4 linked regions of the Homo sapiens genome follow. The protein of the gene in region 4 interacts with the protein of the main gene of each other region in a pairwise test. Each region holds a gene or a part of one and is shown on either strand. Other genes may lie near its edges. The genes, in order: KRTAP4-2, TJP2, UFSP1 and LASP1.

What was found.
Region 1: the proteins of LASP1 (region 4) and KRTAP4-2 interact in binary tests that used the Homo sapiens proteins (3 or more experiments, as listed by UniProt).
Region 2: the proteins of LASP1 (region 4) and TJP2 interact in binary tests that used the Homo sapiens proteins (3 or more experiments, as listed by UniProt).
Region 3: the proteins of LASP1 (region 4) and UFSP1 interact in binary tests that used the Homo sapiens proteins (3 or more experiments, as listed by UniProt).

What each region holds. Positions count from the first base shown.
Region 1 is NC_000017.11:41,176,242-41,182,495, forward strand, and holds KRTAP4-2 (keratin-associated protein 4-2), read right to left. Parts: upstream 1,981-6,254; 5' UTR 1,924-1,980; coding exon 1,513-1,923; 3' UTR 1,205-1,512; downstream 1-1,204. UniProt on the Homo sapiens protein: In the hair cortex, hair keratin intermediate filaments are embedded in an interfilamentous matrix, consisting of hair keratin-associated proteins (KRTAP), which are essential for the formation of a rigid and resistant hair shaft through their extensive disulfide bond cross-linking with abundant cysteine residues of hair keratins.
Region 2 is NC_000009.12:69,247,048-69,255,020, reverse strand, and holds part of TJP2 (tight junction protein 2), read right to left. Parts: intron 7,010-7,973; coding exon 6,797-7,009; intron 5,647-6,796; coding exon 5,536-5,646; intron 3,987-5,535; coding exon 3,657-3,986; intron 2,207-3,656; coding exon 2,121-2,206; intron 813-2,120; coding exon 647-812; 3' UTR 1-646. UniProt on the Homo sapiens protein: Plays a role in tight junctions and adherens junctions. Acts as a positive regulator of RANKL-induced osteoclast differentiation, potentially via mediating downstream transcriptional activity.
Region 3 is NC_000007.14:100,887,248-100,894,504, reverse strand, and holds UFSP1 (ufm1-specific protease 1), read left to right. Parts: upstream 1-4,789; 5' UTR 4,790-5,005; coding exon 5,006-5,662; 3' UTR 5,663-5,784; downstream 5,785-7,257. Other genes in the region: ACHE (acetylcholinesterase), read left to right, coding at 250-1,340, 1,687-2,171, 3,167-3,336, 4,170-4,291; SRRT (serrate RNA effector molecule homolog), read right to left, coding at 5,956-6,031, 6,122-6,248, 6,362-6,463, 6,646-6,802, 6,992-7,185.
Region 4 is NC_000017.11:38,893,638-38,901,610, reverse strand, and holds part of LASP1 (LIM and SH3 domain protein 1), read right to left. Parts: intron 4,710-7,973; exon of another isoform or gene 4,540-4,709; intron 3,200-4,539; coding exon 3,092-3,199; intron 1-3,091. UniProt on the Homo sapiens protein: Plays an important role in the regulation of dynamic actin-based, cytoskeletal activities.

The sequences.
Region 1 (6,254 bases), 2.3 Mb from region 4:
CTTCGCATCCTCTTCCTCTCCCACAGGGTGGGCCATAGCTAGTGGTAACTGATGTAGGATTGTAAAGTTCCAACGACCTTACCTCTCAGAAAGATGGGTCTGTAATACCATTCACACTCTAGAGCTTCCTGTGGGGTCAAATGACAATAAAATCCTTTTGGGCTTAGCCTCTTCTACAATCCTATTCTGTTTCCGACATTTCCTTACTGATTTCTCCTGAGAGCATTTTCTTATAAAAGTCACTTGTGCAAACATCCTGTTTTAGATCTTTCTTTGGTGCCTCCAACTTAGCAGCATGGCTCAGGGTGAAACCTTTTTCAATATAGCCTTTTTTAGGATGAGAATCACCAACACGGTGGTTGTGTCCTATCCCTCAGATAAAACGATGTGAAGAAAAAAACAATCAAAGACAACTAGTTTAAAAGCAAACATGCATATTGAAATAAAAACTTTAAAAATTAAAATTCTTAAAAGAAGACCAAAAAAGTAAATGAACAAATAATAGAAAAAAATTGTAATGCGCAAAAATTGAAAAGAAAAAAAACAGCAAAATGTTCAGAGGTGTCCATTCAGGTGACAGTAAACTCAAGAGTTGATCAAAATCTATGGTAACCATTCATATTGTACAAAAACATTTTGAAGGACACTAATACTGAGATTAGGAATGCTGCTGTTTTAGATTGTGTGCTCTCTGGGGCAAACCCACAAAAGAGGATCTGAGAACATGTGGTATATTTGGACGATTAACCCAAGAAACACTGGAGGAAACTTGAAGAATGACCCTGGGAAGGAGGGAAAGTCATTATAGAGTGAGTTCATGATCAGAATGTTCCTGCAGGCATCTGGTATAAATCCCGCTGAAGACCTCTGGAAGACTGGTTTGACATACCCCCCACTGGAGGGAAACAAGCCAGGGCATATATTACCAACTCCCACTCATTCTCTGAGTGCTGTTCCTAGAGGCTTTAAGTCTCCAGCCCAGAGTTTGCTCCTTTATCCAGAGAAAGTCCTCAGGTAGAGAGTTCCAGGTGCCTGCTCTAAGGAACCATTTTCCTATGTTTGAATGGAGAGTGCTGATAGGATAGAGGTGGAGCCCCTGATATCATCTGCTGTGGTCTTCTCCCTCTGCAGGGAAGAACATCAGAAAATTTGACAGGTAAGGATGAGAATTCAAGAAGGAAAAATGAGACACAATGCCCGTATATTATTTGTATGCCTCAAAAATTAAAATTTATTTAAGATAGAGGAATAGCTCCATGTGATAAATTATGGTAGAGAGCAAATATTTCAATTCAGGGAACATGGGGTTGACATATTTCAGAGAAAATTCAAACTTGTATTCATTTGGTAGAGGGTAGCAACATAGTGTTTGGTGAGCATATTTGGAGGCCAAACTCAATCCAAGAATTGGTTGGAACTGAGGTTGTCCAATTGGCCTTGCATGATTCAGTTCACAGGTGGATCATATCAAGAATGCTGGTTAATAAAGGCAGGTGAGTATAGGTGAGGGCATCAGCAGCAAGAGCCACTAGAGCAGGTTGGGCGGCAGCAGGTGGACACACAGCAGCTGGGGCGGTAGCAGGTGGTCCTGCAGCAGGTGGTCTGGCCACAGCTGGGGCGGCAGCAGGTGGGCTGGCAGTACACAGACTGGCAGCACTGGGGTCTGAAGCAGCTGGACACACAGCAGCTGGGACGGCAGCAGGTGGTCCTGCAGCAAGTGGTCTGGCAGCAGCTGGGGCTGCAGCAGGTGGGCTGGCAGCACACAGACTGGCAGCACTGCGGTCTGCAGCAGCTGGACACACAGCAGCTGGGGCGGCAGCAGGTGGTCCTGCAGCAGGTGGTCTGGCAGCAGCTGGGACGGCAGCAGTTCTCTAGGCCACAGCCCTGGTCAGAGCACACAGAGCCACAACAGGAGTTGACCATGGTGTCAGAGGGTGGAGGTTCTGGGTGGATTTCCAGGAAGGTGGGTTTGGAAGGTTTGGAAGTTTCCTTGCCCCAGATCCTCTTTTATACCCTGCTAAGGCCTGATGTCATCAGATGCAACACTCTTTCCTTGTTATTATTTGTCCTGATATGTAGGCAATTATCAAATTAGGCAAGTTTGTTGTTCTGGTTAACTTATCCACATAGATGGAAACACTGTCTCCTTTCCCTAATGTGTTAGGACTCCTTAGCTCAGCTCTTCCTGAACCACCTCCTGTGTCTCTCTTACTATAGCTTCCTCCTAGAGCAGCCATGTGACATCTGCCTGTAAGCACATACTATGTGCTTCAGTCTCATTTGCTTAACACATCATGACTACTCTTGGGTGATTACTATTCTTACAGGCCCTTGACTCTTTCTGGTGACTCAGGAGGATAAAGCTGCATTTCAGTCTGATGGCTCCTTCATTATGGGTCAGATGGCCTGTGAAGGTTTCAGTGTGAAACAGATTTCAGTGTGAAACAGATGACCACTGGTGTGAGAACGAGAACACCGTAGGACCTATCGCTTTTTTATCTTCCGCACTCTGAATTGTGACCCATTTTCTAGACCTTCTGATGAGAAATACAGAGCTGTTTTAAGGTGGAAAACTAAGCTGTGAAAGTTTGATGTTTCCTTTTCTACAGAAACAACCCTCCAAAATTCAGATTCAGGGCCTCTTGGGGAATGTTGGCTTCAGAGAACAGCTATACTTAAAGGTCCAAGTCCCTCATTTTTTTGCTCCCTGGGGCAGATTTTCCTTGTGACTTTGCCTTTCTGCCTTCCTAGCTCTAACAGGGCACATGAGCTCATCTCTCCAGGTTCCAAAATTTTCTGGCCAACCCAAATTAGATGACTCAGTATCCTTTGCTTGCTCTAATTCGCTCCCAGCCCTCTTGCTTTCTCTGCTGAATTGCTGGGCCTTGAAGATGTCCTATACTCTGCTGCTTCCTTATAGAAGTTGTTGATCCAATTTCACACTTTACATCTTTGTTTTCAAAAAATAAATCAATAAAGAGAGAAAGAAAGCAGAAAACAGGTATCAAGAACAAAGGATATCAGCCTATATTTTTTCATGTAGGGATGGCTGACTATTGTTTCAAAAATGTGCTATGTTGTCAATTCATTAACTCATCAGTTAATAAATATATATGTATTTCCCCACCCCTGAGGAGTCAAGGAACCCAGGGAAGGGGGTGGAAAAATGTCTGACTTACCATGATAGAAATGTTTTATGAACTGGGCAGCCTCTGCAGATAATCAGGGGAGGAGTTTCAGTGTAAGCTGGTGTTTCTGAGGGAGATCCAAGAACCAGATGGAGGGGATTGGATGAATGAGGGAGATTCCCTTTCTTCTCTCAGGTGCTTATAAGTCTAATAAATCAAATTGTGGTGTTCTTATGATGCTGCTATGTTCCAAGCCAGTTCCTACTCCTGCCCTGGCCCTAATTTCCAGGTGATTCAAGCAGAATGAAAACAACTTGGGCTCCCAAGTGAACCCCTGCTTGGTGCGCTGGCTGGTGTTCTGAGCCTGCACTGTTCTCTGGCTCTGATGTACCCAGACATCATATTTTATTGAGGGATGAAAGTGGGTTCCATGATGCTGTGGAATTAAGACCCTGTGAGCCCCATGGTGGTGTACGAGAACAACTCTAAGATTTCCAGGAGACCTTGTATTCTGGAAAAGAATCGTGCCCTTGAGAAGCCGTGACGATTGGTGCCTGCTGATGATTCAGTAGAGATCACTTTATATTAACTATTTTTCTTCATGATGTGAGTGTGTGTGAGTGTGTGTGTGTGTGTGTGTGTTTTCCTTAAGATAAATTTACATTATATTTAGGAATCTCTCACGATTTCTTCTAGTACTTTAACAATTTCATTTTTTCTACCTCTACTCAGCTATAATTGAAATATAAAATTGTATGTATATAAGGTGTACACCCTGATGCTCTGATATGTATATATTGTGAAATTATTGTCATGATCAAATTAGTTCACCTCCACCACTTCACATAGTTACCATTTTTTGAGTGTGTGTAGTGAGAACATTTTAGATCTAGTCTTTCAGCAAATTTTAAATATACAATACAGTGTAATTAACTACAGTGACCATGCTGTACATTAGATCCTCAGAACCTATTCTTCTTATAAATGAATATTTTCTCCCTTTGACCAACATTTCCTCATTTCCTCCATCCACAACCTTTGACAATCACCATTCTACCCTCTGTTTCTATGAGTTTTTAGATTCCACATGTAAATGAGATTATTTGTCTTTCATTGTCTGACCTACTTCACTTAGCATAATGTCCTCAAAGTCCATCCATGTTGTCCCAAATGACAGGATTTTCTTCATTTCATGGCTAATAACATTTCAGTGTGTGTGTGTGTGTGTGTGTAAAATCCTTGCAATCTTACATTGGTGTTTGTGCCTTTGAGGACACAGTCTCCTCTTCCACACTTTACAAGTTCCCTTCAGCAGGGAAAGACTCTCAGCAGTCAACTCGGCCTGGGATTCTGGACGGGGAAGCTGGTAGCATTTGTGAACAGGCAGGGCTTACTCTTGGGGGTCTCTGGGTGGGTAAAACTCCTGCCCAGGCCCTGAGGTTCAGTGGGGCTGCTGCCTGGGCTTTTGTGCAGCTGTGGCTACTGGCTGGGATCCACGGTTAGGTGTGGCCACTGAACGGTTTCATTTTTATGTTGAATATTTTATCTGGATGAAATTTGTTTTGATTTAACAAATGAAAATCTCTCCTTTTTTTCTTCATTCTGTACATCTTTCATTAATCCCTTTTATTCTTTCTTGCTTTTTTCCCTTTCCTTCGTTTATTCCTGAATTTGGCTACCTGTTTTATAGTATATTTGAAGTAATCCTTTCCATACTGCTTTTAAGACACCAGCTTTAGGATATAATTAATTTGTATAGACTTTTTTTTTTTGAGATGGAGTCTCGCTCTTTCGCCCAGGCCAGAGTGCAGTGGCGCTATCTTGGCTCACTGCAAGCTCTGCCTCCCCAGTTCACGCCATTCTCCTGCCTCAGCCTCCTGAGTAGCTGGGACTACAGGTGCCCGCCACCATGCCTGGCTAATTTTTTGTATTTTTAGTAGAGATAGTGTTTCACCGTGTTAGCCAGGATGGTCTCGATCTCCTGACCTCGTGATCCACCTGCCTCTGCCTCCCAAAATGCTGGGATTACAGGAGTGAGCCATGTATAGACTTTTAAGTCAATTTCTGGGCTCTACTCAATGGCAAACTTCACTGTTTGAAAATCTCTGGGTTAGATATCTCTAACGTGACTTCCAGTTTACAAACCTATACATTTATGACTTTTTTTTGATTCCCTTTTACTTGATGACTCATTGTTATCCTTTATCCCTCCCATCCATGTTCATGCTTATCTTTTAAAATTTGTAATTGTCCTCAGGTTCAGTCATGTAAAATCCCATTTTTAAGAGTATGGATCCTATAAGATATAGTAATTTTCCCTACATGCTCCTCCTAGGAGAGAAGCAATTCAAAATAAAATACCCAGCCACAAATACCCGAAAGACATTTCTGTCTAACCTAAATTATGACTTAAAACAGTGATATAAACTCTTCAAAAATTATTTTTCCCAACAACCATATTACTAGGTTAGTGCTGAATGCACCAAAGTCCTCCAAATATTAGCCATAATTAGATAGGCCACAGGAATAAATACAACCTGCATTTTTATACTTCTGGCAACACATCTTGCCTGTTTTGTGCCTATGTTCATTTCAAAATTTAACTGAGACATAAGCTAATGTTTACCCAGAAAAGTGTATTTAGATTCTCATAAGAATAGAGCGATACCCTTACAAGAAAGAATAAAATATTAGAACTCTTTCATCCAGAAAGAAAATAGAAGGTTGGTTAAGAAACTCTTAAAAGCCTTGGCCGGGCATGGTGGCTCATGCCTGTAATCCCAGCACTTTGGGAGCCCGAGGCAGGTGGATCATGAGGTCAGGAGATCGAGACCATCCTGGCTAACACGGTGAAACCCTGTCTCTACTAAAAATACAAAAATTTAGCCGGGCACGGTGGTGGGTGCCTGTAGTCCCAGCTACTCAGGAGGCTGAGGCAGGAGAATGGCGTGAACCCGGGAGGCAGAGATTTCAGTGAGCCAAGATCGCGCCACTGCACTCCAGCCTGGGCGACACAGTGAGACTCCATCTCAAAAAAAAAAAAAAAAGAATGTGACTTTCTTTATGACACTAATGTTATATTGCTCTACTGATATGATAATGTACTTTAATTTTTGCCATTTTCTT
Region 2 (7,973 bases), on a different chromosome or scaffold from region 4:
TATAGTTATGATATAGACAGTCCAAATTTATGGAAAATATTACAAAGACAAATGCCTTGAAAAGATGACACAGTGCAGGGAAAACTACAGCTATTAAGCTGGTATAAAAACTTAGTCAAAATGTTTTAGTCCATTATGGCTCTGCCTAAAGCTTCAAAGGAAGAAAATTTAAGACACTTCTCATCCAAGGCACTTAAAAGAGTTGCAATAAAGTACTTCTTTGAATTTAGTTTGAGCCCAACAGTATTTTTTATTCCTTTTTCACATTCTGACTCACACTGAAACAGTCCTTGAAGGCAGCTATTAATGAGGAAAAATAGTTATTGCTTCTTAATATACATATTACAAGTACGCAAACAGAATACAGATTTCGGTCCACTGAAGCAAGTAACAGGATCTGACTGCAGTGTTCTGCTTAATTCTGAACAAAAAGCCACAGACTCCTCTAACCCAGTCCCACAAACAGAGCCCTCAGTTCTGAATTTGCACCAGCTGTCCCCTGGGTTCTCCATGAGGACACACGAGCTGGAGTCCCACCACGTCTCCATGGTGCATTCTAACTGGAGAAGAACCATCCCGGCGGCCTGGCAGGAGTGGCTAGTCTGATGCCATGCAGGCAGGCCTGGGAGAGTCCGTGCTCAGACATCTATAATTCTGTGTCCCGGTATCGGGCAGACTGGCCATAGTAACCGCGCTTGGAGTGTTCTGACAGCTGCTGGCGGTACTCCTCCTCCTCGGCATCACTGCCATAACTTCCTCTGGTATCCTGATAAGGTCTGGAAGGAGCTTTCTGTGGCTCAGGGGGTCTGGAACTAACAAAAAAAGGGTGTTAAAGACATTCCAGAGCACATCCATGTCCTCCGGCTGCCCGGGGAGGCATGGCTCTGAGCACAGTGACTGGGTATCCCGAGCAGATCACTTACCTCTGAGCCACATTCTGCAGAGCAACCAGGGCATCCCTGGTCCTGCTCCAGGTTCGTAATAGGTCAAATCCAATGCCCACTTCGGCGGTGAGTGAGGAAGCCAGCCAGGTGCTCCCTGACCTAAGAATCTCCCTGTTGGACAGGGGGTGCCCTCCTTACCCCTAAGCTCCCTGGCTAGTCTCACCCAGCAGCGAGGTCTCTGCCAGTTTCAGTCCATCATAACCAAGAACTCTTTGTTGCCAGAGGCAACCTGGTTGACTGTGTTACCACTCAGCTGGTAAAGAAGAAATTTGTTTCCAGTTTTCTATCACTGGAAAACTAGACTTCAGCTTCCAGTCAGAATGGCCACAAGAGGCTGGGTACAGTGGTTCACACCTGTAATCCTAGCACTTTGGGAGGCCGAGGCGGGCGGAGGTCAGGAGTTTGAGACCAGCCTGGCCAACATGGTGAAACCCTGTCTCTATTAAAAATACAAAAACTAGCTGGATATGGTGGCACACACCTGTAATCCCAGCTACCCGGGAGGCTGAGGCACGAGAATCGCTTGAACCTGAGAGACGGAGGTTGCAGTGAGCTGAGATTGCACCAGTGCACTTCAGCCTGGGCGACAGTCACTCTGTCTCCAAAAAAAACAAAAGAATGGCCACAAGAAAATGTGACTTTTTTTTTTCTATTCTCGGAAGCAGGAAGCAATCCAGTATAAAACTTCAACAGGAAGACACTGTGAACATTCCTACTGTTTGTGTGGCATTTACCAAGACTGCTCATTTGCTTGTCACGGTCCCTTTAGACCCCAGGGCAGCACAAGCGGTCTGACTTTGCTGGATGATGCAAAGGAATTAAGAAGTTTGGCTGAGAGTCAGCAAACAAGACAAAACAGGTCTAAGCCGTAGGAATTCTGCTCATGTGCTAACCATGTGCAATGTAACATAACCAGGCTCCAATGTGTCAAATGTACTGGCTGGAAACATCAATGATTACACTTTGTCAGAGTTTTAGCACACAAGCAAACTATGCTTAAGTTTTGACTCTGTAATCTTTACAATTAAATTTGATGGAATGAGTAAGGCAAACAGTCAATCTGTGGGGAAAAAATCCTCCTGTTACTCTGAAATTTGGGTAAAGGAAATTCTTTCTTCAAGTCCCAGTCCTTGAGAAGTCCCCGCCTTAGACCTGTACCCACTAGGCAGCCCTTACCTCGTGTGCTGGGGCGTGCCAGGGTCTGGCTTGTGCGTTTTGATTGGAACTGCATAGATATCAGGATGCTTCTGGGCAATTTCGATCTGTGGTAATTAAAAAAGAAAAGAATAAGAGTGAAAGAATGAACCACTGGGCACTCTGCTTGCTGGTTTCCTGCTGGTCCCACCCTTTCCCCATATCCTACTTATTTTCCCATCCCATTTCAAGAAGAGGAAACACAGAAGCGGCCTCCTCATTTCCATGGTTATGTGCGGTACACGTCAGACAGGAAAACTATTTAAAAGGAATGAAACTCTGACACATGCTACAACCTGGATGAACCTTGAGGACATCATGCTAAGGGAAATAAGCCAATCACAAAAAGACAAATAGTGTATGATTCTACTTATAGGAGGTTCCTACACTGTCCAATTCACAAAAAACAGAAAGTAAAGGAGTGGGTGCCAGGGACTGCGGGGAGAGGAGAGTGGTGAGTTAGTATTTTATGGGTACGGAGTTTCACGTGGGAAGGATAAAAAAGTTTTGGGGATGGATGGTGGTGATGGCTGAACAGCAATGTGAAGGTACTTAATGCCGCTGAACCGAACGTTTTAAAATGGTTGAGGCTGGGTGCAGTGACTCATGATTGTAATCCTAGCACTTTGGGAGGCTGAGGAGGGTGCATTGCTTGAGCCCAGGAGTTCGAGACCAGCCTAGCAACATGACAAAACCTTGTCTCTTCAAAAAATACGAAAAATTAGCTGGGTGCAGTGGCATGTGCCTGTGGTTACAGCTATTCAGGAGGCTGAGGTGGGAGTATCTCCTGAGCCTGAGAGGTGGAGGCTGCTGCGAGCTGTGATCACACTGCTACACTCCAGCCGGGGTGACAGAGGGAGACCCTGTCTCAAAACAAAACAAAACAAAACAAAATAAATAAAAGAAAAAAGTGGTTGAAATGGTAAATTTTATGTTATGTATATTTTACGACAAGAAAAGAAAAATGCTCAGATGTACTGCTGCTGTTGTGCTAGACCTGAAAGAAAACTCCCACATCTACTGGGCAAATATACTCCACAGACCTTTAGTTAAATTCTTCTTTGTTTGAAAAGTTCTATGTGCATATGGTATACAAATTCAAACAGCTCAAAAAGTACAATCTATGGGCCTTTCTGTTTTAGCACCCAGTTTGCTTGGTTTCTACGGCAAATCTGGGAGCCAATGAAGACACGTTTAAGAAAAAAAAATCACATTCTAATTAAAACGACTTCCGAGAGGCACTGATTCCCTCCTCACACTTCCTCATTCCAGAACTCTATACAAAGTTCTGTGTATAAAGAGCAGAATCTTCTTCCCCTATATTGTCAAGTTTTCTTCTTTGGAAGAACAAGGGACGTGCTGGGAGCTGGCAATCTGAAGTGACATACACAGCACCTGCCTTTGGTGCAGTGCATCCCTGCCACATCTGCAGCAGCAGCAAAGGGGCTGTTCGCTGTTATGTTGAAATCAAACTTATTTAAAACTCTTATTGATGATGTGTAGTTTAAAAACAATTACCCTTGCATTCTGTGCTTCCTGGAGCTCCTGCATTCTCTGTAACCTGGCCTTGTGATCCATCTTCTCAAATATTTTGACTTTGCCCAGGACTGATTTGGGAGCATTATCTTGCTCCTCACTGCTCTCTCCCACCTCCTCACCCTCTTGAGGAGGGATGGGAGTGGAGGGCTTCAGTATAGACCGCCCAAAGGTAGGTTTTGCTGCAACAGGAGGAGGATAACCTTTGGTAGATGCCCCAGGAGTTTCATTACCAGCAACGGCAGAGGGGTTTGACTTATATTCATAGGATTTGGAGAAGTCATAGGATTCTTCTTTGTTCTGGGTTTTGGCCTGCGGAGAGCAATGACACGTTTTCACCCTGGGCTTTTAAGTTTATTTTCAAATCTATATTAGTGATTTAATACACTCCATTTCCTGATCAGTTTCCAAAGGTGGTCCACAAATACCATTCTGACAAGGAATGTAATACAGCAGGGCAAACAGCCACTGGCCAGGCTTCCTGAGCCCTACCTCCCTTCCTATACTAGTCTATTAGGAATGTCAGGAAGCCAAAAAGGAATAGGGAAAGTGCTGGGAGGGCTGTGATTGCTGGAGGTAAGATCAGACCTGGAATAATTTTGTTCTAGAGGAGATCAGCATCTTGGAGAAGATCTCAGAACAATTCAGGCTTTGGGACTCGAAGAGTGGGCTTCTGAGGTCACTGCTGCACTGAGGGTACATGAGCCGGCCCAGGTGAGACCCATGTCCAGCTGAGGAATGAGACTGGGGTGGGGAGCGAGGAGAGCACTGCTTCACGCTAACAGCCACTTTTCCTTCACACTTCCAGTCTTGCCCGGCTTGCAAATTTTCGCTGATGTATTTTATGAGGTCACTTATTATTACTTAGTACCTATCACATTTACTACTTCTGATGGCTCACACAATCAATTATGGCTTTCTTCTCATCTAAATTATTGAGTTAGGCTGGGCGCAGTGGCTCACGCCTGTAATCCCAGCACTGTGGGAGGCCGAAGTGGGTGGATCACCTGAGGCCAGGAGTTCGAGACCAGCCTGGCCAACATGTCGAAACCCCATCTCTACTAAAAATACAAAAATTAGCTGAATATAGTGGTGCACACCTCTAAGTCCCAGCTACTCGGGAGGCTGAGGCAGGAGAATCACTTGAACCCAGGAGGTGGAGGTTGCAGTGAGCCGAGATTGCACCACTGCACTCCAGCCTGGGCAACAGAGTGAGACTCTGTCTCAAAAAATAGTAATAATAAATAATAAATTATTGAGTTAAATAGGTTTTATTCTGGTATAAGGAAAAACATAGAGTCACAGCTCTGATTCTGACTAAAGGTAAATAATCTTTTGATATAAGCCCTTGTGTCTTTATATTGATTCTGCTCTGGATAATGATTTATTAAACAAATAAGCAGCTCTCTTAATGAGAGGCATTGTAAGCAGTGGTGATGATTATTCTCTTTAGCACATCACCAGTAAGAATTATCTGGTGCATCTAAATCAGACTGGGCAGAAAACTTTAGCTGGACAGCAAAAGAAAAACACGTTCTGCGATTGGTGATTCTGGGTATACAGTACAGTATTTTTCAATCTTTTTCTTTACAATCTTTTTTTAACAAGAAGAGTAAATTAAATAAACACTAACAGTCCTAAAATCATATGCTCTCCTAATATTGCCTTTCCTTCCTTTTTGCCCTTCCCTAATTTGGGAGTTCACCCAACAGGCCAAAAGATAGGCTCTAATAGAGAACACAGTGAGTCAGAACCGTAATTAAACACCATCTCAGTGTGCATGCTCCTCCCTGGCCGTCCAGGAGGCTTCAGAGGCATCTGCTTCCTCTTCCTTCCCATCCTGGGCTTCCCAGCCACGTACCTTGGGCGGCTCTGGCTTGAATGCTGGGGGCGGGCTATTGTCCCTAAGTTGATCGCTGCTAGCAGCCCTCCTCATCTGAGCTCGTGGCTCTGGGCTGGGTTTCCTTATGCTCTACAAGACATAAAGGTTCATTCACAACAAGAACATCCAAGCAGAGAGAACAGAGCACTCGACTGCTTTGGAGGAGTTCTGCAAACTTGAGTAAGTCCAGAAGTTGAGGTTCTGAGCCGGTGCTTCTTTACTGAACAGGCAGAAACCATCACCAAATGCTTCAGACACATTTTTAAAAACTGGCTGCATCCAATGTAGAGTCTCTTCCTTTAAAGCACAATTTTTTAAGAACCCTCCAAAAGTCTAAAATCTCTTGTGTCACTAATATCCATGTCTATAGGCATTTGGAAGTTAATTTATTCTTTACAAGTTGTCTAGCATAAACTAATTTGTTGCTGTGGTAATGGTGTATTTTTCTCCCCCTTCAGTTTGTTGTTGTTGAACTTTTTTTTTTTTTTTTTTTTGGTAGTTCTATTTCATAAAGAAAAAAATCATTTACTGGAATGAGCTAAAATGCTAGAGAGAAATCCACAGCAATAATTATCCAAATATATGAACAATCCCATCTTCAAAGATCATTATTCCAACATTCTCTGAGGTGCAACTAATAATTGCTAACTTGGCTGTGACTTTACAGTGCCTGTCAATGTGATTTCAAGGATCCCATAAGCTATCTAATCACAGTGGATGCACAGTACATGTGATGTGATCAGATGAAGGTTTGATCATGAACTCAATTAAAAAACTGAAATATAAGAGAGAAGGAAACTGATGGGGAAACACTCAAGAGCTTTGGCAAGATTAGAAAGGTTAAAGGCAGGATGGGGAAGAAAAGCAAGGACATCTAAGAGTACAGAGAGAAACCTAATCAAAGGTTACAAGTACATACAACAATACTGCATGGGAAGGAAGGTTCCGCTGGTAATTTGGACAGACGGCACCTAAAGCCATTCTGTTTATCCATCGCACCTGAGGGCATGGGTGTGCGGAGTGCTGACCCCTCAAGCTCTTCTGAAGTCCACCTGCCTGCCCCACTTTCCCACAGACTGCAACCATGCCAGCGTGGACTCAAAGCGAGAGACTCCCTGGAAGTCATCTGCTCCAACCCTTAGGAATGCCTTCCACAGCACCCTGAACACACAGCTGTCCACGAGAGTGCAAGGAAAACACCAGGCTCTCCTGTTCCTGCCCGTGGCCTGCCTCGCCTCACCTCCTCGTGCTGCACCGGCTCCGAGGAGCGGGTGATGGACGACACCAGCGGCTCCTCGGCTGGCTCATCCAGCTCATTGTCAGTGTAGGCGCCTCCTTCACCGTCCGTGTCTTCAAAGTCACTGATGAGGCGGCTGTCGCAACTCAGATAGTCCGCGCCCATGGCGGTTAAGTAGGACATGCGGTCTTCGGGGTCATCATCCATCCCTTCCATCTAGAGGAATTTGTGTTGGACGGTCAGTGGGGTCTGATGTGGCTCCTGGGAGTGGGGACTCAAGAAAATTCCCAAGGACACAGCCAAGCGACTGAAACCTTGATGTGCTCGCCAGGGAAGGCATCTTTTATTTTTCTCCCTGAGATCACTTGGCTTTGGTACAATGTTGATATTATGGTCGTTTTTGTGCAGGAACTCAAATTAGGGGCCCTGCAGCCTATCTGTGCTACCATCCATCCTCCATACCGCGGCTAAGCCACACTTTCTCAGTCTGTCTTGCTTTTCTTCTGAATCCAGCTCCTCTGCAGCCTGTTCTCCTGGTACCACTCTCCTAGTAATATCAACACATTGCACGCTGCCTTGTGCTACACTCACATCCATGCCTCTACAAGATTCTCAGACCCTCAAAGGCAGAAGCTATGTCCTGTTCAACCTGTCCTCCCCAGGGAAGCTTGCATCCCCCTTCCAAACTGGAAGCACTCCATAGATGCCAGATACTTTGACTACACATCTAGTTCTCAAAGAGCAAAACTTAGTCAATTCTGCAACAAAATAGTCACTGTCAAGTCTCACAAAACTACCTCAGTTCAGCTGGTGAACAGGATACTAACACCAAAAGCTTCTAAAATAAAAGCGGCCACAGGTAATAGAATCTCCCTCTCTCCTCCCTGCAGCACAGCTGTGTGTGAGCTATCTCCCCGAGGGAGAAGCGATCCAATTCTAGAGGCCTAGACAAATTCCCTAACGTTCTCATATCACCCATTCAAACTCCCAGAACGATGGCACATTCTCAACCAACCTTATTTTCTAAGTAATTCTAACTCCATTAGCTTTTCTTTTTATTAATGTTTAGCCGTATTCTCCAAGTTGCTCAACCTCACCTCTCATCTGCACTCTAAGTTTCCCACGTCCTTAGTAAGCTGTGGAGCTCAGCATGAGATCTTGTAAGCTCTGATTAGTGTAC
Region 3 (7,257 bases), on a different chromosome or scaffold from region 4:
GGGTGCTCCTCTCTGTTCCCTGCATTTGTCTGGATATGGGTGTCTGCCTGATCTCTTTCCCCTCCTGCCCGCTGGCCTGTGTCCTTGTCTCTGCCTGTCTCCTTCCCTCCCTCCCTCTCTCCCCTCATCTTTGCCAACCTGCCCCACCTCCTCTGCAGCTGAGCGATAACCCTTGGGCCGACAGTGCCCTAATCTCCTCCCTCCTGGCTTCTCGACCGACCCTTCACCCTTTCCCTTTCTTTCTCCCAGCAGACGCCGCCTGCCCTGCAGCCATGAGGCCCCCGCAGTGTCTGCTGCACACGCCTTCCCTGGCTTCCCCACTCCTTCTCCTCCTCCTCTGGCTCCTGGGTGGAGGAGTGGGGGCTGAGGGCCGGGAGGATGCAGAGCTGCTGGTGACGGTGCGTGGGGGCCGGCTGCGGGGCATTCGCCTGAAGACCCCCGGGGGCCCTGTCTCTGCTTTCCTGGGCATCCCCTTTGCGGAGCCACCCATGGGACCCCGTCGCTTTCTGCCACCGGAGCCCAAGCAGCCTTGGTCAGGGGTGGTAGACGCTACAACCTTCCAGAGTGTCTGCTACCAATATGTGGACACCCTATACCCAGGTTTTGAGGGCACCGAGATGTGGAACCCCAACCGTGAGCTGAGCGAGGACTGCCTGTACCTCAACGTGTGGACACCATACCCCCGGCCTACATCCCCCACCCCTGTCCTCGTCTGGATCTATGGGGGTGGCTTCTACAGTGGGGCCTCCTCCTTGGACGTGTACGATGGCCGCTTCTTGGTACAGGCCGAGAGGACTGTGCTGGTGTCCATGAACTACCGGGTGGGAGCCTTTGGCTTCCTGGCCCTGCCGGGGAGCCGAGAGGCCCCGGGCAATGTGGGTCTCCTGGATCAGAGGCTGGCCCTGCAGTGGGTGCAGGAGAACGTGGCAGCCTTCGGGGGTGACCCGACATCAGTGACGCTGTTTGGGGAGAGCGCGGGAGCCGCCTCGGTGGGCATGCACCTGCTGTCCCCGCCCAGCCGGGGCCTGTTCCACAGGGCCGTGCTGCAGAGCGGTGCCCCCAATGGACCCTGGGCCACGGTGGGCATGGGAGAGGCCCGTCGCAGGGCCACGCAGCTGGCCCACCTTGTGGGCTGTCCTCCAGGCGGCACTGGTGGGAATGACACAGAGCTGGTAGCCTGCCTTCGGACACGACCAGCGCAGGTCCTGGTGAACCACGAATGGCACGTGCTGCCTCAAGAAAGCGTCTTCCGGTTCTCCTTCGTGCCTGTGGTAGATGGAGACTTCCTCAGTGACACCCCAGAGGCCCTCATCAACGCGGGAGACTTCCACGGCCTGCAGGTAACTAGTGGCTAGCTGGCGTGAAGCTGGCTCCTCTGGGTCCCAACGGTCCCTCCCCTCCCTGCAGGGACCCAGGCATGAGGGCTTCTCCAGGCCCATTCCCAGAAGTCCCAGAAGTCCTCCCTGAGGGCTCAGATCCCAGGGTGGTCAGCAGGGCAGACAGGAAAGCCACCATGGGTCTATTTTCTCTTTCTCTGCATCCCTCCCCTGATCTCGTCCTCTCTCTGTCCATGGTTCCGGGTCTGTAACTGTTCATCTCTCTGGCTCTTTGTCTGTCCATCTGTTTCTGTCTACTTGTCTGTCTGTGCCTGTCGCTCCATCCCACCCCCCTCTCCCTCACCCCCAGGTGCTGGTGGGTGTGGTGAAGGATGAGGGCTCGTATTTTCTGGTTTACGGGGCCCCAGGCTTCAGCAAAGACAACGAGTCTCTCATCAGCCGGGCCGAGTTCCTGGCCGGGGTGCGGGTCGGGGTTCCCCAGGTAAGTGACCTGGCAGCCGAGGCTGTGGTCCTGCATTACACAGACTGGCTGCATCCCGAGGACCCGGCACGCCTGAGGGAGGCCCTGAGCGATGTGGTGGGCGACCACAATGTCGTGTGCCCCGTGGCCCAGCTGGCTGGGCGACTGGCTGCCCAGGGTGCCCGGGTCTACGCCTACGTCTTTGAACACCGTGCTTCCACGCTCTCCTGGCCCCTGTGGATGGGGGTGCCCCACGGCTACGAGATCGAGTTCATCTTTGGGATCCCCCTGGACCCCTCTCGAAACTACACGGCAGAGGAGAAAATCTTCGCCCAGCGACTGATGCGATACTGGGCCAACTTTGCCCGCACAGGGTCAGCAGTGCAGAGGGAGAGAAGGCTGGGGAGGACAGGAGTCGGGGGCGGGAGGACACACAAAGGCAGACACACGGAGACAGAAAGGACGGGTGGGACAGGGGCAGGATAGAACAGCCAGAGAGGGATATGCTCACAAAGTAGATAAAAGGGGAGAGAAAAAGAAAGGAGACAGAGAAGGCAGAGGGGGTCTTGCAGAGACAGAGGCAAAGGAAAGTGAGGAGGAGACGAGGTAGACATGGAGGGGGCGGGGCACAGTGGCTCACCCCTGTAATTCCAGCCCTTTGGGAGGCCAAGGTGGGAGGATCCCCTGAGGCCAGGAGTTTGAGACCAGACTGGACAACATAACAAGACCCCGACTCTTAAAAAGAAAAAAAATACAAAACTTAGCCAGGCACGGTGGCTCGTGCCTCTAGTCCCAGCTACTTGGGAAGGTGAGGCAGGAGGATTGCTTGAGCCTGGGAGGTTGAGGCTGCAGTGAGCTATGATGGCACCACTGCACTCCAGCCTGAGTGGCCCTATCTCTGGAAAAAAAAAAAAAAAAAAAAAAGGGAGACCAAGACAAAGGAGTTGGAGCTGGATTAAGTCAAACCAGTGATGATTCACTAGCAGTGACACATTCTCTCACACACACACCAGTTTACCTGGATCGAGAAGAGGACAATGAAATCTAGCATTGGATGGGTGTTGTTAAAAAATGTGATGTTTGTAGACATAGGACCCGTCCTGGTTATTTAGGAAAGTCTCAAGACATCCTAGCCATTTTTTTAGTGAGAGAAACAAAGATGGAACAGAAAAGCTGAGGGAAACGGAAGGAGACGGAGCGCTTGAGGAAGGGAAGACCCCAATGACCGCGCACATTGGAGAAAGTGGTGGGAGGGAGGGGACGGGTTCTCTGGGGCTCTCCGCTGAGCTGAAGAGTCCGGGATCCCGTGGAGTTGGGGGCCACCTCCTCCCACTGCCCGTCTGGACTGAGCCTTCCCTTCCTTCCGCAGGGATCCCAATGAGCCCCGAGACCCCAAGGCCCCACAATGGCCCCCGTACACGGCGGGGGCTCAGCAGTACGTTAGTCTGGACCTGCGGCCGCTGGAGGTGCGGCGGGGGCTGCGCGCCCAGGCCTGCGCCTTCTGGAACCGCTTCCTCCCCAAATTGCTCAGCGCCACCGGTATGCAGGGGCCAGCGGGCAGCGGCTGGGAGGAGGGGAGTGGGAGCCCGCCAGGTGTAACCCCTCTCTTCTCCCCCTAGCCTCGGAGGCTCCCAGCACCTGCCCAGGCTTCACCCATGGGGAGGCTGCTCCGAGGCCCGGCCTCCCCCTGCCCCTCCTCCTCCTCCACCAGCTTCTCCTCCTCTTCCTCTCCCACCTCCGGCGGCTGTGAACACGGCCTCTTCCCCTACGGCCACAGGGGCCCCTCCTCTAATGAGTGGTCGGACCGTGGGGAAGGGCCCCACTCAGGGATCTCAGACCTAGTGCTCCCTTCCTCCTCAAACCGAGAGACTCACACTGGACAGGGCAGGAGGAGGGGGCCGTGCCTCCCACCCTTCTCAGGGACCCCCACGCCTTTGTTGTTTGAATGGAAATGGAAAAGCCAGTATTCTTTTATAAAATTATCTTTTGGAACCTGAGCCTGACATTGGGGGGAAGTGGGAGGCCCCGGACGGGGTAGCACCCCCCATTGGGGCTATAACGGTCAACCATTTCTGTCTCTTCTTTTTCCCCCAACCTCCCCCTCCTGTCCCCTCTGTTCCCGTCTTCCGGTCATTCTTTTCTCCTCCTCTCTCCTTCCTGCTGTCCTTCTCCGGCCCCGCCTCTGCCCTCATCCTCCCTCTCGTCTTTCGCACATTCTCCTGATCCTCTTGCCACCGTCCCACGTGGTCGCCTGCATTTCTCCGTGCGTCCTCCCTGCACTCATACCCCCCCTTCAACCCGCCCAAATGTCCGATCCCCGACCTTCCTCGTGCCGTCCTCCCCTCCCGCCTCGCTGGGCGCCCTGGCCGCAGACACGCTCGACGAGGCGGAGCGCCAGTGGAAGGCCGAGTTCCACCGCTGGAGCTCCTACATGGTGCACTGGAAGAACCAGTTCGACCACTACAGCAAGCAGGATCGCTGCTCAGACCTGTGACCCCGGCGGGACCCCCATGTCCTCCGCTCCGCCCGGCCCCCTAGCTGTATATACTATTTATTTCAGGGCTGGGCTATAACACAGACGAGCCCCAGACTCTGCCCATCCCCACCCCACCCCGACGTCCCCCGGGGCTCCCGGTCCTCTGCATGTCTCAGGCTGAGCTCCCTCCCCCGCGGTGCCTTCGCCCCTCTGGGCTGCCAATAAACTGTTACAGCCACGGGAGTGTGCGCGACTAGGGAGCCAGGGGTAGAGGCAGAACGCCGGAATCACGGGGGCCGAGTCTATGCAGGAGCGGGGCTGGAGGGCAAGAAACAGGCGAGCTCCGAGGCGGGCGCAAGGCAAAGGCCAACCCCTAGCCCTGCCCTGCCGGGCGGAGCTCGCGCCTGCGTAATGAGGCCCGCAGGCAGGCTAGCTGGCACGGCGGAGGGGAGGAGAGGGGAGGGGAGGGGAGGGGAGGGGAGGGGAGGGGCGGGGCGGGGCGGGGCGCGGCGGAGCATTGTGGGAGCTCCTCGGTCGGTGCCGGTCGGTGGCTGCCTATTGCGGCCTGCGGTGATCAACGAGGCCCGGGGAGCGCGTCCCCAGTCTGCGCGCCGGTCCTGCGGCAGCTGGCCCAAGACCCGGAGCCGAAAGGAAGTGTTGGAGCCTGAGGTCGCTCCGCGCCGCTAGGAGGACGCTGTGCCTGGCCTGGGACCTCCGCTCCCGCCCACCGCCCTGGAGCCGCTGAGGGACGTCCACGTGGGCCTGTCCCCGCCGAGCCGCGGCCCTGTCCGCCTGGCGCTGCTCTCGGGCCACTACCTCTACTACCACTACGGCTGCGACGGCCTGGACGACCGCGGCTGGGGCTGCGGCTACCGCACTCTGCAGACGCTGTGCTCGTGGCCAGAGGGCCAGCCCGCGGGCGTACCTGGACTGGCCGCCGTACAGGCGGCCCTGGAGGACATGGGCGACAAGCCCCCCGGCTTCCGGGGCTCCCGGGACTGGATCGGCTGCGTGGAGGCCAGCCTCTGCCTCGCTCACTTCGGAGGGCCCCAGGGACGCCTCTGCCACGTACCCCGGGGAGTGGGGCTGCACGGGGAGCTGGAGAGGCTTTACTCGCACTTCGCAGGGGGTGGGGGCCCAGTCATGGTTGGGGGGGACGCAGATGCCAGGTCCAAGGCCTTGCTGGGAGTCTGCGTAGGGTCAGGCACGGAAGCCTATGTCCTGGTATTGGACCCTCACTACTGGGGCACTCCAAAAAGCCCCAGTGAACTACAGGCTGCTGGGTGGGTGGGCTGGCAAGAGGTGAGTGCAGCCTTTGACCCCAACTCCTTCTACAACCTGTGCTTGACCAGCCTTAGCTCCCAACAGCAGCAGCGCACCTTGGACTGAGGACGAAGTTACAGAACTGAGATTCTCGGGTCCCAGACACGCACCTATGTACCTCCCACTGGTGTCCCTGCAAAGCCTGGCGCTTTTGACATCAATAATAAAAGTGGCAGGGCTGAGCAACACCTCAGGAGTTACTCTGGAAGGATGGAGGAGTTATGTAACACACGAGAGTCAGGAGCCCTGTGGAAGTGCTTTTATTAGCAGTAAGGCTGATCGTACAAAAAATTCTCAGAGCTTCATAGGACAAGGTAGTACAAGTATGGATGATACAGGACTGAGGAACGGGGGACGGCTCAAAAGAAATCAACATCGTCTGGGGCATCCAGGTCCCGATATTCCACAATGGCCCTTGGGTCTCCACGAACCATCCTGTGAGGTGAGAGGTACAGGATGAGAGCTGAGGGCTCCCAAAAGGGAGTCTGCAGGCGGCAACAAAGCTTGGGCGTCTGCCCTCCTCACCTGTTGCGAGGTTTCCCAGGATAACCTCCCTGGCCTCGGAAGGCATCATAGTTCCCTCGACCAGCACCATACGGGGCATGGGGGTATGGAGGGCCTCCTGTGGGGACTGCAGGGCGGACAGCACCAGCTATGACAGAGATCAGTGTTGAGTTGCAAAACTATGTCCTCAATTCCATCCTCTGTTTTCTTCTCCCAAAGCCACACACTCACCAAGCCCCTTCATCTCCCTCCTGTACTTACCTCCATAGCCCAAGATCGGGGGCCGGGGCTGACCATAGGGCATCAGGCCCTGGGGAGTCTGGTGTGGGTAGGGGAGTCCTGGGGTCAAACCTGGGGGGAGTACAACACGGACAGGGACATGAATTACTGCGGGGGCGGGGAGGGGGATACGGGTACAATTGACTTCTAGGGCTATGGCCTGAGGATGGGGCAGAAACTTCTCGGGGTGACACGTTAAAGAGAAACAGGAGTCCCTGGGTAGTCAAGGAAGAGGGCACATGCGACCTTCATGGATCGTATCTTACTCTGGGCGGGGCCAGGTGGCTGGGCTGGCTTGATCTCAGGCAGAGCTGGGCGCTTAGCATCAGTGAGGAAGTTGTTAAAAAACGCGACTTCCTTTTTCACTTCCTCAATTTTCTCTGCATGCTTGTTGAAGATATGTTTGCGCACAAACTCAGGACCCTGGGTGGAGAGAGGAGAGGGGTCAGGACAGCCACATAAGGGTTGCCTCGCTCCCAGGCCCGAGCTGGAAGGATTCCCAGCTCCCGCCTGCCAGTGCAGTAAGCAGTTCCCCCACCCCTGCCCAGGGGGCTTCCTGTCTCAACCCCACCTCCCACCACCGTAGCACGGCCATTCTCCAACATCCCACACCTTGAATTTCTTGCCACTGAGAGGACACAGCCACTTATCCTTGCCCAGTTCCTGCGTGTTGGAGGTGACGAACTTCTCCACTTCCTGCTCTGGGTCTTTGCGCCCCATCTTCTGGGCCTCTTCCTCTGAGAGTGACTCCCGCACACTCAGCAACGGCGTGAGCTTCTCCTCAAAAGTCTTCTGCCACTCCAGCACTGTGGTTTGGGAACAGAGGAAGGAAGGTTGGCAAGGGAGCCAGAAGGAAGGATGGTGGCAAGGGGCTGGAG
Region 4 (7,973 bases):
CCCACTCCCAGAGACGCTGATTCTGGCAGCCAGGGGAGAAGGCCTGTGAGTCTGCATTTTCAGTCAACCCTACAGGTGACTGTGCTACAGCTGTCTGGAGGCCCATATCCGACAGACTGTAATTGCTTTCATTAAAACCAAGAGTCTCCAGGCTTTGCATTCACACCCTACAGGTCTCTGCTAAAGCTGCAAAAGCAGCTAGCAGGTCGGGGTCGATCCCTTCCCCCAGCTCCTGCAGAGGACCATTAGCTCACTGCAGCACCGCGAGAAGGGTAAAAGATGGTTATCTCCTGAGATGCGGATGGCTTGGCCAGGGTGGTGAGTTTTGTCACTAGGATATTAACACCTCTAACTGGGGGAGGGAAGAAGAGGAGGTGGCTTAGGCTGAGTGTGGAGTGTTCTGGAAGCCTTCCAGAAAGGGAAGCAGGGATGACTGGGCTTGTCTCCCCTCCTCCAAAACCCACAGGGTGAAGCAATGAGTGAACAGCCAGGGAGCTGGGGTTGCACATTGGGAGCAAGTGTCACTGATAAAAGACTAGAGCCTCTACATGAAAAGCCGCAGAGGCTGAAGAGCCGACATTCCAGTTCTGTGAACCATTCCGGGTTTTCCCCATAATCTAAGACCATCTTCCCCCTCCCCCACTTTCCAAGCCGAGAGCTCTGAAACACAGACCTAAGGGTCTTACCCTTTGCAGGGTCTGAGCCAAAGGGAAGCTCCAGGGCGTGAGGCCAGGCCCTAGCATATAAAGAGTCAACTGTGACAGGCCTCTGGAAGTTGGAGGGGAAGGAGGATTAGAGTGCCCGCCCTAGGCATCCCCTGCTAGCCAAAGGGAAGCATGCCATTTCCTCAGGCCACCAACTTCAAACTGCAGGTCAACAGTCCAGTTGCAAAACCCATTCACAGTAAGTCTGCAACCAGCATCTTTTTGGTTTTTTTTTGAGATGGAGTCTTGCTCTGTCGCCAGGCTGGAGTGCAGTGGCCCGATCTCGACTCACTGCAACCTCTGCCTCCCGAGTTCAAGCGGTTCTTCTGTCTCAGCCTCCCAAGTAGCTGGGATTACAGGCACACGCCACCACGCCCAGCTAATTTTTGTATTTTTAGTAGAGATGGGGTTTCACCATGTTGGCCAGGATGGTCTCGATCTCTTGACCTCATGATCCGCCCACCTCAGCCTCTCAAAGTGCTGGGATTACAGGCATGAGCCACCGCGCCTGGTCCTTTTTTTTTTTGGAAACAGGGTCTCACTCGGTTTCCCAGGCTGGAATGCAGTGGTGCAATTACGGCTCACTATAACCTCAAACCTCTGGGCTCAGGTGATCCTCCCACTTCAGCCTCCTGAATAGCTAGGACCACAGGCGTGTGCTATCATGCCTGGCTAGTTTTTGTATTTTTTTTTTTTTTTTTTTTTTTTTGTAGAAACAGTTTTGCTATGTTGCCCAGGCTAGTCTCAAACTCCTGGGCTCAAGCAATCCTCCCACCTCAGTCTCCCAAAGTGTTGGGAATACAGTCCTCAAAGGGGCTGTATTATGTGAGGGTGTATAGGGGCCTGCAACCAGCATCTTTAGAAAAGATCTGAATGTGGCCGGGTGCGGTGGCTCACACCTGTAATCTTAGCACTTTGGGAGGCCAAGGCGGGCACATCACCTGAGGTCAGGTGTTCAAGACCAGCCTGGCCAACATGGTGAAACCCTGTCTCTACCAAAAATACAAAAATTGGCCGGGGGTGGTGGTGTGCACCTGTAATCCCAGCTACTCCACTTGGGAGGCTAAGGCAGGAGAATCACTTGAACCCTGGAGGCGGAGCACCACTGCACTCCAGCCTGAGCAACAGAGTGAGACTCTGTCTCAAAAAAAAAAAAAAAGATCTGAACGCCCTCTAAGTAGGAAGTACTCATTCATGAAAGCTTCCATTCTGTTTTCCCTCTACATAAATGTATGCCTGTCAGATGGGTCAAGACGTACAATGTATATTTTACTGTAGGCTGAAGTCAGAGTTTGAAAGCCACCATTTTGGGCATGGCTGGTTCTGCTGTCTGTGGGCTGCCTGTGCTTCTGAAATCCACCTGACCCACCACTGCAGCCCACTCTATGCACGGCCCAGCCAAGCTCTTAAAGGAGCGCCCTGCTGAGGTGGCCAGGTGGAGGGTAGGAAGGGATGTGGAGCCCAGGGAGTGGGTGCTGAGACCACCGGAAAGCCAGGCTCCCCCGGCAATCTCTATCCCCAGTTCCTCAGCCCAGAGCAACAATGGGCAGCTCACTGATCCCTTCCTGTTCCAGACACGAAGACAGCTGCCTGCCTAAACCCTCCCTGGCAGGACCTCCTAGGCCAGGCTGGCTGGGCAGCCCCTGCAGTTCTGTGTGCGCATCCCCCATGGTTGCTGCTCACCGCAGTGCCCTGCCCCCGCATGCCTAAAGCCACACAGGCTGCTTGCCTGTGGCTCTGCCAAGCAGGAAACTGAGGCCTGTTCTCTGGCCACAGGTGCCATGGAGGGCACACGATGCTGGGGACAGTTGATCCCCTGCCCACTCTCCATGCCCACCCCTGCCACAGCCAGATGCCACTGACCATCAGGGAGGCGGGGGGTGTGAGCCAGGGGGTGCAGGGCTGGCGGGTGAAGCTGGCTGGGGTTTTTACACAGGAAGGAAGAGCAGGCTGATGTGGGGGAGGAGGCCAAGGAAGGGCGGAAATGACTGCAATGTCAGCACCCAGGCGCAGACCAGGGGAGGCCAGGTGCTCCCCGCCCCCCAGTTTTGACCTTTGTGCTAAGATGAGACATGCAGTCTTCACCGATACCCACGATATCCAGAAAAAAGAACAACAGTCAGAGAGAGTGGGGGCTGATTTAGCACACAGGCCCCCACAGAATACAGTCCCTTCAAGAAGAAAATGCTATGCGTGCTGGTGGTCTGGGGGTACACAGAGAAGAGGCATCTGGGAACCCCAAGCTCTTCCCCAGGCCCACCCTGGAGGGCAGGGGTAGTGGAGGCACTGGCCTCATTCACATCTGCCAGGCTTGCGTCTGCCAGGCTGGCAGGAAGGGGACCAAACAGAGGGCAGCAGGGATGCCGCAGGGCAGGGCAAGAGCTCACGTTACTGATCTGGTCCTGGGTCTTCTTGATTCTCTGGAGCTCGGGCGTGTCTGCCACTACGCTGAAACCTTTGCCCTTGTTCTTCTCAAACTCCTCCTTGTAGCGCACCTGCAGGAGGGGAGGAAGAGGGATTGGAGTCAGGCCAGGAGCCGAAAGGGCCTCGGCTTGGGGCCCCTCTGAGGCAGCAACCAGTCAGGAGACAGGGACAGGGAGTCAGCAGAAAGACCCTGATCAGAAGTCCCCAACTCAAAGCAGAGGCCTCAGCCAAAAGGTGTTAGACTCGTAATAATAAGCCACTACCAAGTCTTTGGTGCACAGTGAATGGCAGGCACAGAGTCCAGGGCCTTACATGAACCATCTCATTTAGATCCCACCATACATATAGCCACGCAATTAACAGCTCCAATTTACGGATCAGGAAACGGAGCCACAGAAAGGCAAAGTCCCCTGCCCAAGGTCACAGAGCTTAGCAGTCAATGTCCGGCACTACCAGAGTGCAAACCCTCATCTGCCTGACTCTTGACCCTTCACTCCCTGCCCATCCTGTCTGGAAGCTTATAGGAAAAAGGTTCTTTCCAGGGCTCCCAGGGTGGCCCCAGCCCTCATGTTAGCCAGGATGTGGCCCTGCCCACTACGCCTGGGGGAGCTTTTCAGCAACCAGCTGAGTGAGGGCTGTGCCAAAGGACAGAGTTGGTGCCCAGAAAGGAGGGTGGTGAGACAGCCCCAGGGAAGGCTCCATCAGTGCGCCTTTGACAGGCCCCGCGGATTCTGGGAGCCTGCCGGGATGGCTTCAGAGGCCACCGCCATAGGAGGGGAGGAAAGCAGCGGGGGTCAGACAGCATCTCAGCAGGTCTCCAAGCTCCAGGGAAGAACCCTTCCACCCCACCACAGTACTAGAGGGACTCAAGTCAGACATCAGAAAGGACTTCCCTGGCACGAAAGGAATTGAAATATGAGGAACAGCTTGTCCTCCCCTGAGGGTTTTGAAGAACAGAATGAGGCTGAGAAAACTCATGGAACAGGAAACTATTCCTTGGCTTCCAGAGACTTCACTGTCCACCTCATCAGCCATCTGTTCCAGACCCCACCAGCTGCTTGGATTTCCTCCACGGGGGCTGCACTGTCCTGGACACAGGTCAGCCCAGGACACAAACCCAGGCAGTTCCCTGGCAGGGAATCATCTGGCAGCAGCACCGAGCTGTGCTTGGACTGGAGCGACTGCGCATGCGCATGCAGCCACGGCCACACCTGTCAGGTCCTCTGCACATGCCTGTGGGGGTCAGAGTCCTTGTTTGTCTCCTGAAGCCCCCAGTCACTCATCCATGTGGTTCCCTCTCCTTCTCTGTTCTGATCCAGACAAGAAGGGCTTGGATGTGCTGTTCCCCATTAGTTCAGAAGTGAATGCAGTGGATAGAGGCACCAACCCACCCCAAGAGTCCAGAACCTGCCTAGCACCAGCTCTTCCTCAGTCCTGGAAGCCCTGGGCCAGCACGGTGACTCTTAGTGGGAGGCCCTTTGGGAAGCGGGCATCGGGGAAGGTAGGGCACTCAGAGGCAGAGAAATGTAGCTCCAGATACAGAAGCCCTGCATCTCAAGCCCCTGGCCTCGGTTTCTTCATCTGTAAAAGAGTTGTGACAGAAATCAGGTATAATATGGGGAGGGGGCTTCTTATCACCAAGTCTGGGCACAAAGCCAGGCGGAGCTAGCACTAACGCAGGCTCAGTCTCCCACTTCTGAGTGATCTTGGGCCAACGACTTCACATCTCAAGACTCAGTTCCCACATCTGTAAAATGGGGACCATAACGCCAGTCACTCCAACCCACGATACAGACAGTGGCTCTAAAGCAGCAGCGCACTGTGGAGGGCCAGTGTGAAAGTGCTCTGTCAGCAATGAAGTGCTGAACGAGTGCCAGTCCCCCACTCCGTCCCCTGCTTCCTGGCTTTGCAAGGGTCAGGCCCCTAATCCAGGGGAATAATCGCCATGGCGACGCTGCAATGACATCAGCAGGTTCCCAGGATCGGGAACTGCTTCTGCCTCCCCCTCCCTGTTGGGGAAGGATCATTCATTTCACTGCTAACATAGGAGGCCCACAGAGGGTAGGGGTGAGGGGTAGGGGCTGAGAAGGGAGGGAGCCTGGGATCAGCACCACCTTGCTGTGTGTTTCTAAGCAAGTCAGTTCCCCTCTCTGGGTCCCCTGAAGGGAGCTGGCTAGCTGATCTCTAAAATCCCTCCCATTTGGAGTCTGTGACCATTTTAAAGCACCTTCAGACCCTGACTATGGATAATCAAGACAGGGAGGCTCTTTGAAAGGTCTTTGGGTATGGAAGGGGTGGCAGAAGTGAAGGGTGGGGGGCCAGGGGTGTAGGGAGGGCCCAGCCCAGAGCCCCTCTTCAGGGCTCCCTTCTTGCCCTGGCAGGAGTGCTTGCCCCTGTTGTCTAGGATGGCTCACCAGGGTGCTGTGGGGGTCCCTGTGGAGGAAGGGACCTGCCCAAGGTCACAACCCAGTTGTCGCTCAGGCCAGGATGCAACTCAGCGCTTCGGTCAGAGGACCCCACTTCTGGGAGATGCCTGGGCTCCCAGAGGACCCCACTCCTGGGAGATACCTGGGCTCCCATTTTGGAAACTCTGCTGTCAGGCCCAGGACTGACTGACATCTGAGGCTCCTGACACCCAAACAACCACCATCCGTGAAACTCTAATTTTTCTGTCAGTTCTTAGTTGTTCTCCCTGGATCTATCTTGCTTCTCATCCCAGCAGACAGGAGGTGCAGATCAACATTTGTTGGATCATGAATGAATTGAATGCAGACACGTAATCTCCAAACAAAGCAGCATAATTGGGAAAACAACTGCCTTGATGACCCAATATAAGAAGAAGGATCATTACTTAAAAACAAAAATTATGCCAGGCACGGTGGCTCACGCCTGTAATCCCACCACTTTGGGAGGCAGAGGTGGGTGGATCACCTGAGGTCAGGAGTTCATGACCAGCCTAACATGCTGAAACCCCATCTCTACTAAAAAAAATACAAAAAAAGTTAGCCGGGCGTGGTGGGCGTAATCCCAGCTACTTGGGAGGCTGAGGCAGGAGAATTCCTTGAACCTGGGAGCCGGAGGTTGCAGTGAGCTGAGATGGTGACACTGTACTCCAGGCTGGGCGACAGAGTAAAACTCCGTCTAAAAAAAAAACACAAAAATTAGGCTGGACTTAAAAAACAAAATGGCTCATGTCTGTAATCCCAGCAGTCTAGGAGGCCAAGACAGGTGGATCACTCGAGCCCAGGAGTTCGAGACCAGCCTGGGAACATAGTACCCCATCTCTATTTAAAAAAAAAAAAAATTAATAAAAATCTCTAAAAAAATACAAAATTTATTGAGCGAAATACAATTTCCACTATTATGTGCCTACCATGTGTTGGGCCAACATACTTTGTAACCCATCCCCTTCTAACAAAAAAGAAACACTAGTTTTTAAAATTTAGGCAGGGCGCGGTGGCTGACACCTGTAATCCCAGCACTTTGGGAGGCTGAGGTGGGCAGATCACTTGAGGTCAGGAGTTTGAAACAAGCCTGGGCAACATGACGAAACCCTGTCTCTACTAAAAATACAAAAATTAGCCGGGCATGGTGATGCACGCCTGTAGTCCCAGCTATTCAGGAGGTGGAGGCGAGAAAATCGCTTGAGTCTGGGAAGTCAAGGCTGCAATGAGCCAAGATCACGCCACTGCATTCCAGCCTGGGAGACAGAGAGAGACCCTGTCTCAAAAAAATACAAATTTAAAAAAAAAATTAGACACACACAGATGGAGAGGAGAGCTGATGGAAAGGGCCGGGGCTGGAAGTCATGGTCAAAAGGTTGCTGTGTGTATTTCCCAGCTTCTTCATGTCCAAGTTCCATTTCCTCTCCTTTCCGGGAGAACAGTAGTAGCAAACACTGAATGCTGACTCCACGTCAGGAATCTTTAAATGCTTAACATATCCTCCTATCTCACACCACCCTCTGGAGAGAGGTAATCCACATTATTCAGACGAAGGCACTGTGCACAGAGGTTAAGCAACTTGCCCAAGGTCACACAGCTGGTGGCAGCAGATGCGAGATTCAATCTCAGGCCAGCTAGTTCGGGTAAGAGTGATACTCTACCACCCGTGCTGCTTACAAGATCCGAGGAGGATAGAAACCCCCCTGTAATTTCCCATGACCCCATCAAGGTGAGTTGATGAAGGAAAAAATGGAAGAACAGTCTACTGGCACTTGGCACTTCTGCCTGGGCTCAGGGCCATACAGACACCTCCAGCTCAGTCCCACCCCAAAGCCACTGCCTCTGCTCAGCCTGGGGGTGGGATAGGAGCAGCAAGTGAGAAGGGGGGCTGGGGGTCCAGCTGCCAGCCCCCTGCCTCAGCCAGGCCTGGGCAGGACCACCGAGAGGGTCATTTCTGGACAGTTCTGTGGTTACCTCCTCCACAGGGGAGGCTCCAGGTGTCCCAGACACCCAAAGTGCCATTTTGGAGACCAATATAGAGATGGGAAAATAAATAAAGCTGAAATAGCCTGGGCAGCTTCCCAGAGACAGGGAAGGGCAAGGCAGGCCCAGAAGGGGCATGGAGAGAAGCCAGCTGACCCCGTGGGGTGAAGCTGGGTGAGCAGAAGAGGCTCCCCCTTCCCTTCCTGCTAGCCGCAGGCAGCTCTCTCCAGCTCTGCCCCCACGGCAGCCACAGGAACCAGAACCCGTCACTGCTCCAGCCTGGCCGGCTCAGCCCTTCCAAGCCTCAAAGCATCAGGCCCAGCCCCCAGCTTGAGGCAACTGGGTTTGCTGTCCTCATTTTACTGGTGAGGAAGCAAAGCTATGAGAGGAAAGACAGTCTGAGGCCAGTCTCAGACCA